Regions from separate parts of the Homo sapiens genome. Here region 1 is linked to region 2. Evidence: fine-mapped expression QTL. Tissue or cell type: blood mononuclear cells. Region 2 holds a variant in brackets; the other region holds the start of a gene. All regions are shown on one strand. Distances are between the middles of the regions.

Region 1 (8,000 bases), 69 kb before region 2:
CTCGAACTCCTGACCACAAGTGATCTGCCTTACTTGGGCTCCCAAAGTGCTGGGATTACAGGCATAAGCCACTGTGCCTGGCTGCTCTTCCATTTTTTCATCTCTATATTTGAGTGATTTCTTTAGAACCATTTTTCAGCTTTTTTTTTCCCAAAAATATCTGGTGTTTTTGAATTTTTCAATTAATTTACTATATACATTTCTTAAAGTTCTTTTTTTTTTTTTTTGGGACAGTATCTCACTCTATTGGCTAGGCTGGAGTGCGCGATTATGGCTCACTGCAACCTCAACCTCCTGGGCTCAAGGGGTCCTCCCTCCTACCTCAGCCTCCTGAGTAGCTGTGACCACAGGCATGCACCGCCAGGCCCAGCTAATTTTTTATTTTTATTTTTTGTAGAGATGGGGTCTTGCTGTGTTGTGTAGGCTAGTCTCAAATTACTGAGCACAGACAATCCTCTTGCCTCTGCCTCCCAAAGTGTTAGGATTACAGGTGTGAGCCTCCACGTCTGGCCTTAAAGTTCTTTTTCAAGTTTTCCTCCTGTTCTTTCTTTTTTTTTTTTTTTTAACGGACTCTCACTCGGTCACCAGGCTGGAGTGCTGTGGCATGATCTTGGCTCACTGCAGCCTCCGCTTCCCGGGTTCAAGCGATTCTCCTGCCTCAGCCTCCAGAGTAGCTGGGACTACAGGTGCGTGCCACCATGCCCAGCTGATTTTTGTATTTTTAGTAGAGATGGGGTTTCACCATATTGGCCAGGATGGTCTTGATCTGTTGACCTTGTGATCCACCCACCGTGAGCCACCGTGCCCTGCCTTGAAAAAAGTTTATTCTTTGTAAAGACAGGGTCTTGCTGTGTTGCCCAGGCTGGTCTTGAACTCCTGGTCTCAAGCGATTATCCCATCTCAGCCTCCCAAAGTGCCAGGATTATAGACATGAACCACCGTGCCTAGCCTCTATTATAATTTTAAACACTCATTTTTTTCTTTTTATCTTTCTCTGATGATTTTATTATCTGAAATTCTTAGGGATTTAATTCTTGCTCATGGTAGATTGTTTTCTCAAGTGTTGAAAAATTTGTGATTTTGAATTCATCGTCAAGAGAGCTTTATTTGCATGAGTGCAAAGGATGAAAATTCTAGACTGGGCGTGGTGGCTCACGCCTGTAATCCCAGCACTTTGGGAGACCGAGGTGGGCAGATCACGAGGTCAGGAGTTTGAGACCAGCCTGGCTAACATAGTGGAACCCCATCTCTACTAAAAATACAAAAAATTAGCTGGGTGTAGTGGTGTGTGCATGTAATCCCAGCTACTTGGGAGGCTGAGGCAGGAGAATTGCTTGAAGCCGGGAGGCAGAGGTTGCAGTGAGCCATGATTGCATCACTGCACTCCAGCCCAGCGGACAGTGCGAGACTCCATCTCAAAAAAAAAAAAAGAAAGAAAAGAATATTCTAAAAAAAGACTTAATTCCCCCCGCCACCCCACCCCAAAACAAGTGGAGACAGGCAAACTTCCTTATCTTCTAGGTTGGGGGATGGATTTTTTTCCTGGTCCACTGTTTGGAAGATGTTTCCCTTCAAACTTTCAGCTTTTGCAGGGATCTCCGTTCTAGTTCTCCCTCTGGGTCAGGCCCGTAGCTGCACTGCCCATTCTTGTAATGTGCGGCCTCCAGTCTGGAGGGTTCCCAGACTGGCCTACGCTAGGCCACCCATGGGCCTACCCTGCCTCATGCTCATTTAGGCTCCTCTTCCTCATTGACCCTTTAAGATATTCCTTACTTTCCTCCCAGATCAACTGTGGATTTAAAGAACATTTGTTGTATTTAGCACAGCATTTAAAGATATTTTGTAATGAAAGGGTTTTCAGATTAGTTATTTAGTTTTTTTAAATAAGAGCTGGAAGTGGAAATCCCGATGGCCTTTTCTTTTCTTTTCTTTTTTTTCTTGAGACGGAGTCTTGCTCTGTCACCCAGGCTGGAGTGCAGTGGCTCGATCTCAGCTCACTGCAAGCTCCGCCTCCCGGGTTCACGCCATTCTCCTGCCTCAGCCTCCCGAGTAGCTGGGACTACAGGCGCCCGCCACCACGCCTGGCTAATTTTTTGTGTTTTTAGTAGAGACGGGGTTTCACTATGTTAGCCAGGATGGTCTTGATCCCTTGACCTCGTGATCCGCCCACCTCGGCCTCCCAAAGTGCTGGGATTACAGGCGTGAACCACCGTGCCCGGCCCCCCAATGGCCTTTTCTACTGTCTCATGCTGATTCTGCCTCTGGTGCCATTTTTCTTCCTTGGGAGTGTGCATCTTCCTCTCCTGGGGCGGTAAAGGGAGTAGCAGAGTGCGAGGTATGTGGGAAGGGAGGAGGTTGGAACCTAGTGGTTTCTCAAAGTCTTAGGGCAGGAGGTATCATGGAGAAGCAGTGAGGAGGTCTTCCATACCCAGACATGCCTCAGGGTGCTTGTCTCAGTGCCTGGAATCCCAGCACGAGAGTCATCTTCCCCCCACCGCTGCCCATTGCATCAGTTACTTATTTTAGTAGGAATTAGTTTAGCAGATGGTGTTGAGAATTAGGCTTTTGGGAATGGGAGGCTGGGAAGAAGAATTGTGTGTGTGTGTGTGTGTGTGTGTGTGTGTGTGTGTGTGTAAGATCAGGGTACCAGAAGTGGGTGGAAATGTCCTTGAGAATTAGAATTATTAGAATGTAGCAACAGTAGAAGTATTAGACTCAAACCATCACTCCCCACCTTCACCATTTTACAAAGGCTTAGGCTTGTGGCCAAGACCTTCATCTTTAGCCGATCCATTCAACCCTGGCCAGGATCCAAATGGACTGTTTTTGTCAGGGCCAGGACCGGATCCTTCATACCTGGGGTGCATAGGAAGTGTTAGTACTCCCCTTCCTCCAAACACAGCAGCAAAATTGGCTCAGGTTGAGGTGTTTTTCTCAACTTCCCTGGAGTCCAGCCCTGGAAGCTGGATCAGGAAGCTGTGTTGTTCTACTGTGATTCCCCCTGGCCTGTATCAGCTTGCCCTGAAACAACCAGCATTCCTGGTTATCCCACACAGGTGGGGCACTCTAGGAAGACCAGGGATCAAGTGTGGGGGTGTAGGGATAGGGGGTGTTTGGGGAGGGCAAGGCAGTTAATTAAGGCAGCTGCCAGGAGGTCTCCCTCCAAACTCTACAAAGCTTTATCAGCTTGGAGGTACTTCTAATACCATTTCCTTTCATTGTTTCCTTTTGGTAATTAAAAGGAGGCCAATCCCCTGTTGTGGCAGCTCACAGCTATTGTGGTGGGAAAGGGAGGGTGGTTGGTGGATGTCACAGCTTGGGCTTTATCTCCCCCAGCAGTGGGGACTCCACAGCCCCTGGGCTACATAACAGCAAGACAGTCCGGAGCTGTAGCAGACCTGATTGAGCCTTTGCAGCAGCTGAGAGCATGGCCTAGGGTGGGCGGCACCATTGTCCAGCAGCTGAGTTTCCCAGGGACCTTGGAGATAGCCGCAGCCCTCATTTGCAGGGGAAGGTATGGCCTTTGGAAGGAGAGCTGGCTCAGTTGTGGGAGGAAGATGCAGGACTGACTGATCCCTGCTCCTGGGGAGCTGGAGTTCTCTGTCGCTGGACTAGAAGGGCTTTGTTTGGAGGGGCAATTCAATTCAGCCAGGGATGATCCTAATACTCCCTCCTCCACTTGCCTCTGAGGGTCCTGGGGCTGCTTTTCTTCATGCAGTGGGTTTTACTGTTTGATAGTACTTCACTCAAATGAGTTGGAATGAAGTTTGCCCTCACCTCTGAGAACCTGGGAGCAGCTGAATGTACCTGCGTGTTAGGACTGGGAGGGGACACCTGCTTGGAGACCGAGACCTGGCAGTATCTGACATCTCAGTGTTCCTTCCACAGATGTATCACAGATTGGCTTGATTTCACCTTTGGCTGGATGGGACCTTAGGTAGGAAGGGAGTCACCCCCAGTGAATCTCAGGCAGCAGATTCTGCACTTCATTTAACAACTTTTCCCGAGGAGAGGGGCTACAGCAGGGGCTCTAAGTGACTTGGGGTACGCTCTGCCAGCCAGGATGAATTGTCCCTCTCTTGGGGGTCACACAGTGGGGAAGTCTGCCTGCATCCAGGGCCGCTGGACTCCTGTCCATTTTTTCAGATGAACTCAGCAAACATTTGCTGGGCATCTCCTGGGTGCTAAGCATCTTGCCAGGTGCTGGGGTTGGAGGCAAGGGAGACAGCCTTTGCTCTTGTGAAGGCACTTGTGGTACAGAGTCAGGGGCCAACAAGCAAACCGTCAAGTTGGTGGTTCCTGAGCATTCTCTATGTCTGGGCTGCTGTGGTGGGCACACAAGTGTAAGACGGTTCCTACTCGCCAGTTTGGATGCAGAGGCAGGAAGGAATGAGGTGTGTGTTAGCTCCCAGCTGCTTCAGGAGGCAGGGATGTGAGGCCCAGCGGGCCTGGAGGGAAGGCAGCGTTTTCCTCCTGTCTTGGGCCTGGGACTGCTGTCTGTGGAAAGGTGCCCACAGGTCCCAGCTCACAGCGATTGTTACCCTTGGGCCTGGCACTGGCCAGGGGTTTTTTCGGGGGCCAGAAGTCCATGTTCAAAGGGGAAAAGGGGGTCACGAGGATCAATCTTTTCTCCTGCTTTAAAGAAATGTTTTTGCTACTGCATGCCCTGATAGTCGCCACACCAGCAGCCGCCTACCTGGGCAGCAATGACCAGCTCACGTCTCTTGCTTCTTTGCAGATGATTCCTGCCAGATTTGCCGGGGTGCTGCTTGCTCTGGCCCTCATTTTGCCAGGTAGGTACAAAAGGGCCTCCATTTCTCATTCCTGCCCCAGGGCCATCTGGAGTGACACCTTTCCGGGAATCAGCAGGTGTGTCTGGAGCTCACCTGTGTGCCCAGCCCTAACTTAGGCTGTTGGTTGCCTCCTGTGAAGGTTCTGCGGAGTTCCCACCCTTGACTTGTATTCCAGAGACCAGGTGCCTGCAAATGCCATCTCCTGTTGGGGAATTAAGAAGCATAAAGGTGGCACAGAACTGTCCTATATTATGGGGGCACAGGATGAGGAGGAAGGAATCCAAGACTTGGATGGATTATTAGTTTTCGATAAGATTGTGGAGGTCACCTTGTTGAACCTCCCATGGTACAATGAAGAGACTGAGGGTCAGAGAGGAGAAATGACTGCTCCAAAGTCTCCTAGAGCCAAAATCAGAGGTCAGTCTTCCTGGGTTCCAGGCCAACACCCTTTCCACTGCACTGCATCATACTGCTGCCCTTCCCTTGCTAAGATTCTGGGTCTGCAAATGGCGGGAGGGGACTTTTGACCTTGGGCGCTTTCCACTTAGATCTCTCAGGTCAGCAGCATCCAGCTACTGCCCACAGGTGAGTCTGGGAAAAAAAATACACATTTGTCACACTCTCTGCATCTTCCTACTAGGTGGGTCTTTTGCCGGGGAACCCAGAACACTTAGAGATTTACTGCTGTATTTCCCCACCTGCCGACACACACACACCCATAGTCAGTGAAGGAGTTAGCCTGTGACGCCGGAGGAGTTCACACTTCAGAGAGTCTATGTGTCAGGCACACAGTCTGATCTGTTTAAAATTTAACATGCCCAAGACATGCTAGTAGATTTATGTACAAAGATGCTCACTGCAATCTATCTATAATATTAAAACATGGAAAAATGCTAGAAACCTAACAATAGAGGGCTATACTATAGACATTCAGATGCAAAATATAATGCAGCCACTAAAAACCGCATATTGGAAGTATATACACTAGCACGACAAATTGTTTACAATCTATTGAGAAATAAACAGAGGTTATAGGTAGTTTGCACAAGTTGGTCACCAATTTATAAAAAACCCACAGCTGTATATATGCTATACAACAAAATGGAAAGATGAACATTGAAATGTTAACTCTAATCATCGCTGAATGTTGGGTTACAGATGGTTTTAACTTCTTTGTCTTTTCTTTTCTTTTTCTTTTTCTTTTTTTTTTCGAGACAGAGTCTCACTCTGTCGCCCAGTCTAGAGTGCAGTGGTATGATGTTGGCTCCCTGCAACCTCTGCCTCCTGGGCTCAAGTGATTCTCCTGCCTCAGCCTCACCAGTAGCTGGGATTACAGGCGCCCACCACTACACCCGGCTAGTTTTTGTATTTTTAGTAGAGACAGGGTTTCGCCATGTTGGGCAGGCTGGTCTTGAATTCCTGACCTCAGGTGATCTGCCCACCTCGGCCTCCCAAAGTGCTGGGATTATAGGCGTGAGCCACTGTGCCCGGCCAGCTTCTTTGTTTTCTTCTGTATGCCCCAAATTTTTAATAATGGACATGATGACATTTTAAATCAGTAAGTAAATGTCATTGAAACTAATGGATTTCCTGAAAAACTGTTCCTTAGTTATTGCTGTGAGTCTGGGGTCATATCTGGGAGCTGAAAGCAACAGCTTTAGTCTCATTTAGGATGGAAAATACCTCCCCACAGCCCAGTTTCTATCAGAGGCAGTCTAATTTCTACGAGGCCAGAGAGGTTTGAGCTGATGGTCCCAGTTGTGCCCTGAGATCACCAGCCCAACCTGTGGCCTCTCCCTCCAGGGACCCTTTGTGCAGAAGGAACTCGCGGCAGGTCATCCACGGCCCGATGCAGCCTTTTCGGAAGTGACTTCGTCAACACCTTTGATGGGAGCATGTACAGCTTTGCGGGATACTGCAGTTACCTCCTGGCAGGGGGCTGCCAGAAACGCTCCTTCTCGATTATTGGTGAGTTCTGGGCACTGCAGGGAGGACTTCAGAGGGAGGGCTGGCTGAGCTTAGCCCTGGTGTGGGGGAGGATTCCTGCTCTCAGGACAGTGTCTGAGCGGAAAGGTCACTGCTGAGAACAAGGAGAGGAACAGCCTTTCTGTGACACGTAGCCCCTCTTGGCTTTCCCCGGGTCTCTCCCCACGGGAGCCGGGTGGGATGGATGAAGAGAGTCTTCATCTTTGGTAGTCCACTGTGTCCGTTGCTCTGGGGCCCGGCGATGCCCTGGGAACTCCACAGCATCAAGGCAAATGATGAACTAGAGAAGGTGCTTTGGAACGTGTAAAACTCCTTGCCAGAGAGAAGACTCGTTGTTGTTTTCTTGGTGGCCTGTGGATCAGAACATCAGCTTATGCTGAGGACTTCCTGTATTCCTGCAGAAGGGCTGGTACTGTCCCTGCCATGTCCCTGCATCCCCACAACAGCCCTGGGATGTAGCTGTAGTCATCCCAGTTTTACCAATGGAGAACCAAGGCTCATGAAGGTTGCATGATCCTTCCAAGGCCTGACAGACAATAAAAGGTGGAGCTGAGGCCGGGCACGGTGGCTCATGCCTGTAATCCCAGTACTTTGGGAGGCCAAGGTGGGTGGATCACCTGAGGTCAAGAGTTTGAGACCAGCCTGGCCAACATGGTGAAACCCCATCTCTACTAAAAATACAAAAATTAGCCGGGTGTGGTGGTGTGTGTCTATAATCCCAGCTACTTGGGAGGCTGAGGCAGGAGAATCGCTTGAACCTGGTTGCAATAAGCTGAGATACACTCCAGCCTGGGCAACAGAGCGAGACTCCATCTCAAAAAAAAAAACAACCCACAAAAAACAAAAAAACTGGACTAAGCAGGCCAAGGACAGAGCCCAAGGCCAAGGCTTAATCTAGAAGAGGGCTCAGAAGTGCCCCACTCAAGTTTGGTCAAGGAGGGAGTCTTTGGCAACACCTGGACACTTACCTGAGATCTGGGCTGTAGGGCTCCTGGGGTCATTGCTCCATCAGTCAGCGGGGACTGACACAGGGTCCTCCATGTGCCCAGCACTGGGCTAGGCTCTGTCTAGCACCTGGCTATAGCTATGAGCTCCCCGCATTCCTGCTTTCTCCCTGAGGCCATCTTTGCTACCTGCCCTGACTCTGCTGGGAAACTTATCACATATGACTTCTGGGCACTGCCATCCTTCCCACTCCTCCATGAGCTCCTCAGGGACAAG
Region 2 (8,000 bases):
TGTTTACTTGGGTTCGATTTCTATGGGCCTGGGACCTTCTACTGGATTGTTAACCCTGCATTTTGTTAGGTTGGAGCTGGAAGCTGAAAAGGGGCTCTAAGAGCTGACCCTAGCCCCTGAGGGATTCAGAACGCAGGGAGGTCATCCCACCTTGGTAATGACATGCGGAGAGGGAGTCAGGACTCCTGGGTCCCAGCCCCCGCTCCACCTTCAAATCGGGGTCCTCTCCGTAGAAACCAGCAGATGCCCCCAGCTGTGTGGGGGAAGGGCGGGCTCCACTCTGCTGGTTGTTCCCGAATGTGCACTTTGGGCTCAGAACTTTGTTCAGTTCTGAGAATGGACAGTAAACCACATGCTCATGGCCTGGAGTTTGAACTGTGCCGCTGCTTTGCTGCTGTCACCCTGGCAGGCTGCCTCAGAGCCTCTGCAGACTCCTACTCCTATCCATCATCACCCTCAGAGTCTTCTGTGGCTCGTGGCCCTTTCTCTTCAGTGATGCCCAGGGCCTGAGTGGCAGGCAGCAGGTTGTGGGGAGGTGTTTCTTGTCATTAACCGTGAGCTCCCGGAGGGCTTGGACCACACCTGGCAGCCTGCTGGGCCCACACCGAGTGACCAACGCGAAGTCTTTCTATATAGAGGGGCCTTGAGTTTGCACGTAACTCTGGGTGGGGGGGTCAGGCCCACTGGTGTGGATGGCACAGAGGGCAGAGTGCTTCGGGCTGGGCTCAACCTGCCTACTCACCCTAGCTCCGCCACTACCTCCCTGACCTTAGGCAAGTCACTTTGCCTCTTTGGGCCTCCCTTCTCCATCCTTAGATGATCTGATAATTTCTAAAATCTCTTGTGGCAGTACAGGGCTCTGATGATTTGGGAACAGGGATGGAGCTGGTAAATTTACACTGCAGTTCACTTTCCCCCGCCCCCCCTTTTGCAGCCTAGGGCTTAGCTGCCTTTTATTACATTCATATTTATGTTTCACCCGGGGAACTTTTTTTTTTTTATTAAAACCATCTCATTAGCTAAACAACTATGCCGCTGCTTTCGCGGCAGCGGCTCCAGAGTGGCCTGGTCTCTCCTGCAGCTGTCCCCCGTCTATGCCGGGAAGACCTGCGGCCTGTGTGGGAATTACAATGGCAACCAGGGCGACGACTTCCTTACCCCCTCTGGGCTGGCGGAGCCCCGGGTGGAGGACTTCGGGAACGCCTGGAAGCTGCACGGGGACTGCCAGGACCTGCAGAAGCAGCACAGCGATCCCTGCGCCCTCAACCCGCGCATGAGTATGTGAACCCGGGGGCAAGGCAGGGACCTCGCAGAATCTCGAGGTCTCCACATTAGTGCAGTGCGTTCCGGAGGCAGTGCTCCCACCGCGGAGGGCGGGGGCGGGGAGCGAGGAAAGGGGTCGGGCTTTGTTTTTACCGTCAGCACTTGATCATCTGAACTGGGCCATTTGCTCTTCAAAGTCCCTTTATTGGGCGCCCGCCACAGGCCAACCCCCGGGAAAGAAAAAAAAAAAAAAAGTCTACCGAGGCGGGAGGATCGCTTGAGGGCAGGAGTTCGAGACCAGTCTGGGCAACGTAGGGAGCCCCCATTTCTATTAAAATAATAATAATAATAATAATAATAATAATAATAATAATAATAATAAATTTGCCGGGCGTGGTGGGGCGCGCCTGTAATCCCAACTACTTGGGAGCTACGTGGGACGGTTGCATGAACCCAGGAAGGCAAGGCCGCAGTGAGCCAAGATCGCATTTCTGCACTCCAGCCCGGGCGACAGAGCAAGACCGTGTCTCTCCAAAAAAAAAAAAAAAAAATTCCATAGTCCCCGTCCTTCGACCTTCCCAGTCTACTGCAGCAGCAGCTTACAAACTCAGCGTTAGATGATTGTAAGATAAATGGACTTGGGGGTGGGGGTGGCATTTGCAGATTTCTCTGCGTGACCTTGCAGCCCTCTATTAGCAGCACTGGGCTATTTCCAGGGGAGTGTTGACCGGGAGGGCGTGGCCCCCACTCCTCCCCACCACATCCCAGGCTCGCTCCTCTCGCCCCACAGCCAGGTTCTCCGAGGAGGCGTGCGCGGTCCTGACGTCCCCCACATTCGAGGCCTGCCATCGTGCCGTCAGCCCGCTGCCCTACCTGCGGAACTGCCGCTACGACGTGTGCTCCTGCTCGGACGGCCGCGAGTGCCTGTGCGGCGCCCTGGCCAGCTATGCCGCGGCCTGCGCGGGGAGAGGCGTGCGCGTCGCGTGGCGCGAGCCAGGCCGCTGTGGTGCGTGCCCTCCCTGCCCGCAGCCCTCCGGGCCGCCCCCCAAATCCGTCCACGTGTGCTTTTCGAAGCCCTTTCTCTGCGTTGTTTCCTGTGGAAAGAGGGCGTAGGGCATTGTGACAAACACGGGTGGGGAGGACGGTTCATTTGCACCCACTTTTCCCTTCCACCTCCCAGCAGGACAGGCGGTGGGGACCGGCTGATGATTCGGGCCTGTTCCAGGAAGACAGGTTGGCTCCTCCTACCTGGAGGCCTAGAACGTGGGGGTCCCTGCAAAGCTTGGGTTTCCCGTGGCCGCTGCCACCTAGTGTTCGTTCAGCACAGAAGGTCAGGCTGTGGAGCGAATGGGTCCCAGATCCCACTGGGTCTCCGCCTCCCTTAAGAGTCCGATGAAGGCAAGGGAAATTCACATACAAACCCTTTGCTTGTAACTCCAGGCAAACCACCGATGGACAAAACCTCTGGCGTTGTATAAAGTTACCTAAAGGTGAATTACATCACTGTCCCCAGTTGGCTTTAGATTCTCACTCTGCACTGTTGGATTCCTGGCACCAGAGGTGGTATCTATTGTGCTCACTTTTTTGTTTTTGTTATTGCTCTGGGGACATTTGCTGCATGCCCAGTGTGGTCGGGCAACAGTGATGATGTGGAACTCCAAACTTACTGTTAGAGTCACAGATGGAAATGGCCGCCCTACTAGATACCTATCCTACTAAGTGAAAGGATGAGTAGATTCAGGGCAGGGAAAACCAAGGAAGGCTTTCTGGAGGACGTGTACTTGGCTAGGGTTTTAAAAAGCTGCTTTCTTGGCAGAGAAGACTTGTTTCCAATGGTAGAATCATAGTAGGCATAGAAGTGACGAGTATATTCTGTTAAGAATAAGGCATAGTGGATATTCTGTTTTTTAGGGTAAAGTAGATGTGTTTAGAAATTAAAATGTAGGTGTAGTCCCAGCTACTTGGGAGGTTGAGGCAAGAGGATTGCTTGAGTCTAGGAATTTAAGGCTGCAGTGAGTTATGATCGCACCACTGCACTCTGACCTGGCCAACAGAGAAAGACCCTGTGTGTGTGTGTGTGTGTGTGTGTGTGTGTGTGTGTATACATATATATATATATAAAGTAGATGGTCCTGTTGGAAGAGGAGTTATGAGAAACAGTGAAAGGAATTAGCATCTATATTTCAGGAGCAGTGTAGGCATGGGGACCCTAGAAGTGCTACTATTTTGGGTCCAATGAGCCAACTCATGTTTTGAGTTGTAGAAATGTCATATGAAAGAGGAGCAGAGACAACAGTAAGGACGAAAGGGACGAGCACATAATGCAGCCGTTGTGCCCTCCCCATTCCTCCAGCTCTGGGATGTCTTGGGGAGCCACAGGCTAGGGGCTGGGACAACTGGGTCTGGGTCCTTACTGGCAACTTTCCCGTGAGGTACCAGTTATGGGACCTTGAACCCTTCACGTAACCCCTTTGCACTTCAGTTTCTTCCTTAGCATTTGCTATTTAGAAATTGGGGAAAGTAATGAGGAGTGAATGAGATGCTGCTTGTGAATATTCTTTGCTTGTCCACCAGTGTTAGAAATGATGCATTATCAGTATGTGGCAGCATCCGCAGGATTTCTTAATTTAGGACATTCTCCTGGAATGCTAAGGGCCCACTGAAATATTCTTTAATCTGTCATGAACAGCCATTCTTAACCTCCACTGAACAGAACAGGGGAAATGGGCTGATGCTTCAGTAGTGGGGATAAGATTCAGTTAAAGAATGTCTTGACTCCTGAGGCATTACGATAGGGTAGAAAGGGTGGTAGGAAGGAGCTTTCCCTGGAGACTGTTAAGGACAAGAGGGGTCTGTCTCTGTGGGTTTATGTGACAAGAGACTGGGCTGACCAGATGGCCTTGGGCTGTCCCTTTGTACCCAAGGCAGTTGGGTAAGTCTCCTGGGTTCTTGCCCCAATCTTTTCTTGACTTGGAGAAGAGCTCAGGCTCAGCTGTCCCCTCTACCCACTTCCACTTTCTCTTCCAGAGAAATGAACAGAGCTCCCTAAACCAGTGAATCTATTCGTAAGAAGAG[G/TG]TCACATCAATTGGAGACACTCAGGGAGCACAGACTTACCATGTAGCTACTTTGTGGGATGGTGTGAGGAGATTGATGAGAAGCACACACATTTTTTTTCCTCTTGCAAATTGGTTGTGCTCCCTTTGGGAAGACAGGACCACAGGCTTTCTGAAGGCAAGGACCAGGGCTGGCCATCTCTGCCTCCCTGGGCCTAGCATAGCCCCTGGCATGCAGTGGATACACAAGAAGTGTCTGCTAAACTGAGATGTGCATTGTTTCTTTGGGGAAGAAGGCTAAAGGAGAAATTTAATAAGGCTCCAAGCCAGCCCTAGAGATAGCCTATCAGAACAAAGAAAGTTCTCAAGTCTAGCTGCTTTTTAATGGGTAAAATGTGCCCTTGTCATTGTAGGCTCAGGTGGTTGAAAGACATCTCCATCTTTATTGTCTAACACATCCTGTCTTAACCTACACTCCCTCAGTATTCATCCAATAATCCAACCTTTCCATTCTTGCAGAGAAAAATCAATGTCTAATAGGATTAAAGAGGCCCTCCCTTCCCAGCTACCTTCAAACACCAAGTTCAGGGTGGTTGTAGGAGCGGGAGGCTGCAGGGTCTCTCCAGAGGCTCCCCACTCCATTGTTCAGGCTCACGGCCAAGGCTTACTTTTATAACATCTGTGAAATGCCCTGCCAGTAGGTTTCTGCTGGAGCAATGGATTTGAACAGAGAGGGGAAGGATTGTGATGGTCTCAGAAGAAGCATGCCCAGGGTGAGGTTCTCATTTCTTGGGCAGCAGCTGGTCTGCACAGGGAAGGCATTTTGAAAGGGCAGAATGCTCCCCACACCTTCCCTGTCCTCTACCCTGCCCATAAGGAATTTTGTCACCAGAATGCCAGAGCTTCTGAGGCCTAGGCCTTTCTCTGGAACACTCCTTCCTTCTTGGGACCGCTGAGCTGGGGCTGTTTCCTTAGCAATAAGAATAATAATTATTATCAGTGAACATTATTAGCAGTGAACATTCTCCACATGCCAGACATTCTTCTAAATGTGTTAGCTCATTCAACCTTCACAAAGACTGGGTGGATACTGTTATTCCATCCAGTGAGGATACTGCCCAAGATCACACAGCCAGCTAGTGGTGGACCTGGGCGTGAACCCAGGTATTTGGGATACAGAGCCCGTTCCCTTAGCTGCGTTGCCACTTTGCTACACTTCCTTCTGGCTTGTGTCTCTTGCAGTATTTTTCTGTGGGAGGCTAGGGAGGGTGAGGGCTGTGGGCAGATGGGTGCAGCCCATTTCGCTGTGGTAGGCATGAGTGTCCCTCCTCTTTGGGACCAGCATGTCCTCAAAGGGACTGTTTTCTTTCTAGAGAGTAAGGGTTATGAGCATGAGCTTTAGGGCTGCAGAGAGCTGAGTTCAAATCCTTCCTCTGCTTCTTCCTGTGAGGTATACCCCTAACAAGTCACTCAGCCTAAGTTTCTTGAAAGGGGGTGATGAGAGCTAACTCGGCATGAGGCATAGAGCCCACGTAAGAGCAAGGCATTCAGTAGGTGCTCCATAAATGGTACTCATTGTTGTCACGGGGTATGCCCTTGCCCGTCATTCCCAGTACTTTTTAATATTCACAGCTTCAAAACCTGCCAGGATTTCTACTACATCCTAGGCTTTGAGAATTCAGAGATGACTAATGCACATTCCCTGTGGTTGAGGAAAGGAGAAAATGTGTGCCCCCATAATTATAATACATATCTGCATGCTGAAAAATACACATTTGCTCATAGTGGGAAAGGAAGTTGATGACCATACAGATATAATTGGGGGTCACTTGGGGAAAACTGGGTAAAGGGTACATGGGATCTTTCTGCATTACTTCTTGTAATTGCAAGCAAGTCTACAATTATCTCAATAAAAATTTTAATTAAATAATTGGGGGTCACAGCTACAAGGGGTGGCAAGTCCTAGAACCACAGTCCTTGCTGTCCAACATTCCCGCTGAGGCCTTACTTCTCCTCTCTCTTCTAGAGCTGAACTGCCCGAAAGGCCAGGTGTACCTGCAGTGCGGGACCCCCTGCAACCTGACCTGCCGCTCTCTCTCTTACCCGGATGAGGAATGCAATGAGGCCTGCCTGGAGGGCTGCTTCTGCCCCCCAGGGCTCTACATGGATGAGAGGGGGGACTGCGTGCCCAAGGCCCAGTGCCCCTGTTACTATGACGGTGAGATCTTCCAGCCAGAAGACATCTTCTCAGACCATCACACCATGTGGTAAGTGCAGGCAGCAGTGTCAGGGACCTCTAAAACAGCAGAGCTGGGGAGGAAAACGGGACCCCCAAGTCCTTTACTTCATGGATGGGTAAACTGGGGCCCAAGGAAGGAAGTGACTTGTCCAGAACTGTACAGCAAGTCAGAAGCGGAGCTGGGATTTGGTCCAGGTCTTCTGACTTCCTTACTACACAGGGAACTGGGATTCCTGGCTGGCAGTAGGAGTTCTTGAGTTTTATTGCCAACTGTTATGTGTTGGCCCCCATTTCTGGGCTTTAGGTCTCAGTTTTCCTTTTCTGGAACAGGAAAAGGGAGATCTGCCTGTCACCCTCCTTTCCAGCCTGCTTTCAGTATTCTCAAGCTGAAGCATTTGAGCAGGAAGAACATGGACCACTGCAGCGCTGCCTCCATGGGGCATTGCTACCCTGACCTGCTTCATGCACTTCCCCAAAATAGCTCCAAATCATGCTTGCTTCCTGCAGCTCTTTGCCTAGGCCTTCTGTGACAGTCGGTTTCAACAGGGTTGCCATGAGCGTGGAAGAAATTTACAACAGGACATTTGTTGAGCAAACACTTACCTGTCACCTGTTCTGTCTTAGTTCTGGCTAAGAATTGGTGGTCTAAAGATGAGCCAGGCTGGGGCAGTGGCTCACATCTGTAATCCCCAGCACTTTGGGAGGTGGAAGTGGGAGGAATGCTTGAGCCTGGGAGTTTGAGAGCAGCCTGGGCAACATAGTGAGGCCCTGTCCCTAAATACAAAGAAAAAAAAATAGTTGGCCATGGTGGTGCATACCTGTAGACCCAGCCACTTGAAATACTGAGGTGGGAAGATTGCTTGAGCCCAGGAAGCCAAGGCTGCAGTGAACTGTGATCGCGCCACTGCATTCTAGCCCGGGCGACAGAGGGAAATCCAGTCACCAGACACAGTACCTGATAGTCTACTAGGGAAGACCAGTTAGAAACATCCTGATTGGCCAGGCACAGTGGCTCACGCCTGTAATCCCAACACTTAGGGAGGCCGAGGTGGGCGGATCACGAGGTCAGTAGATCGAGACCATCCTGGCTAACACGGTGAAAATACAAAAAATTAGCTGGGTGTGGTAGCGGGTGCCTGTAGTCCCAGCTATTTGGGAGGCTGAGGCAGGAGAATTGCTTGAACCCAGGAGGCGGAGGTTGCAGTGAGCTGAGATCTTGCCACTGCACTCCAGCCTGGGTGACAGAGCGAGACTCTATCTCAAAAAAAAAAAAAAAAAAAAAAAGAAAAAAAGAAGTCCTGATTATGGAAAATTTCAGACAGACATTAAAGTAGAGAGAATAGTATAAGGAGCCCCAACGTATCCATTCCCAGCTTCAATGATTATCAGCACTTTACCATTCTTATTTTGTCTATTGACTCCTCTGCTGTGTGGCTGGAATAGTT

The links. PIP is the estimated chance that this variant, and not a neighbour inherited with it, causes the effect.
Region 1: VWF starts here. The variant in region 2 is fine-mapped to the expression of VWF in blood mononuclear cells (TOPMed, PIP above 0.99). The same link has a PIP of 0.9 or more in whole blood.

What each region holds. Positions count from the first base shown.
Region 1 is chr12:6,119,935-6,127,934 of GRCh38, reverse strand. VWF (von Willebrand factor) reads left to right here and starts at 3,265. Exons shown (of 52, transcript NM_000552.5): 1 at 3,265-3,514; 2 at 4,739-4,793; 3 at 6,597-6,761. The coding sequence starts at 4,739.
Region 2 is chr12:6,051,126-6,059,125 of GRCh38, reverse strand. VWF (von Willebrand factor) reads left to right here. Exons shown (of 52, transcript NM_000552.5): 14 at 1,082-1,277; 15 at 2,054-2,269; 16 at 6,343-6,583. Among named protein-coding and RNA genes, the nearest start is that of SNORA120, 15 kb to the right of the region's middle. RefSeq lists enhancers at 10-517, 518-1,025. The variant G/TG (reference allele first, on the strand shown) is at 4,339.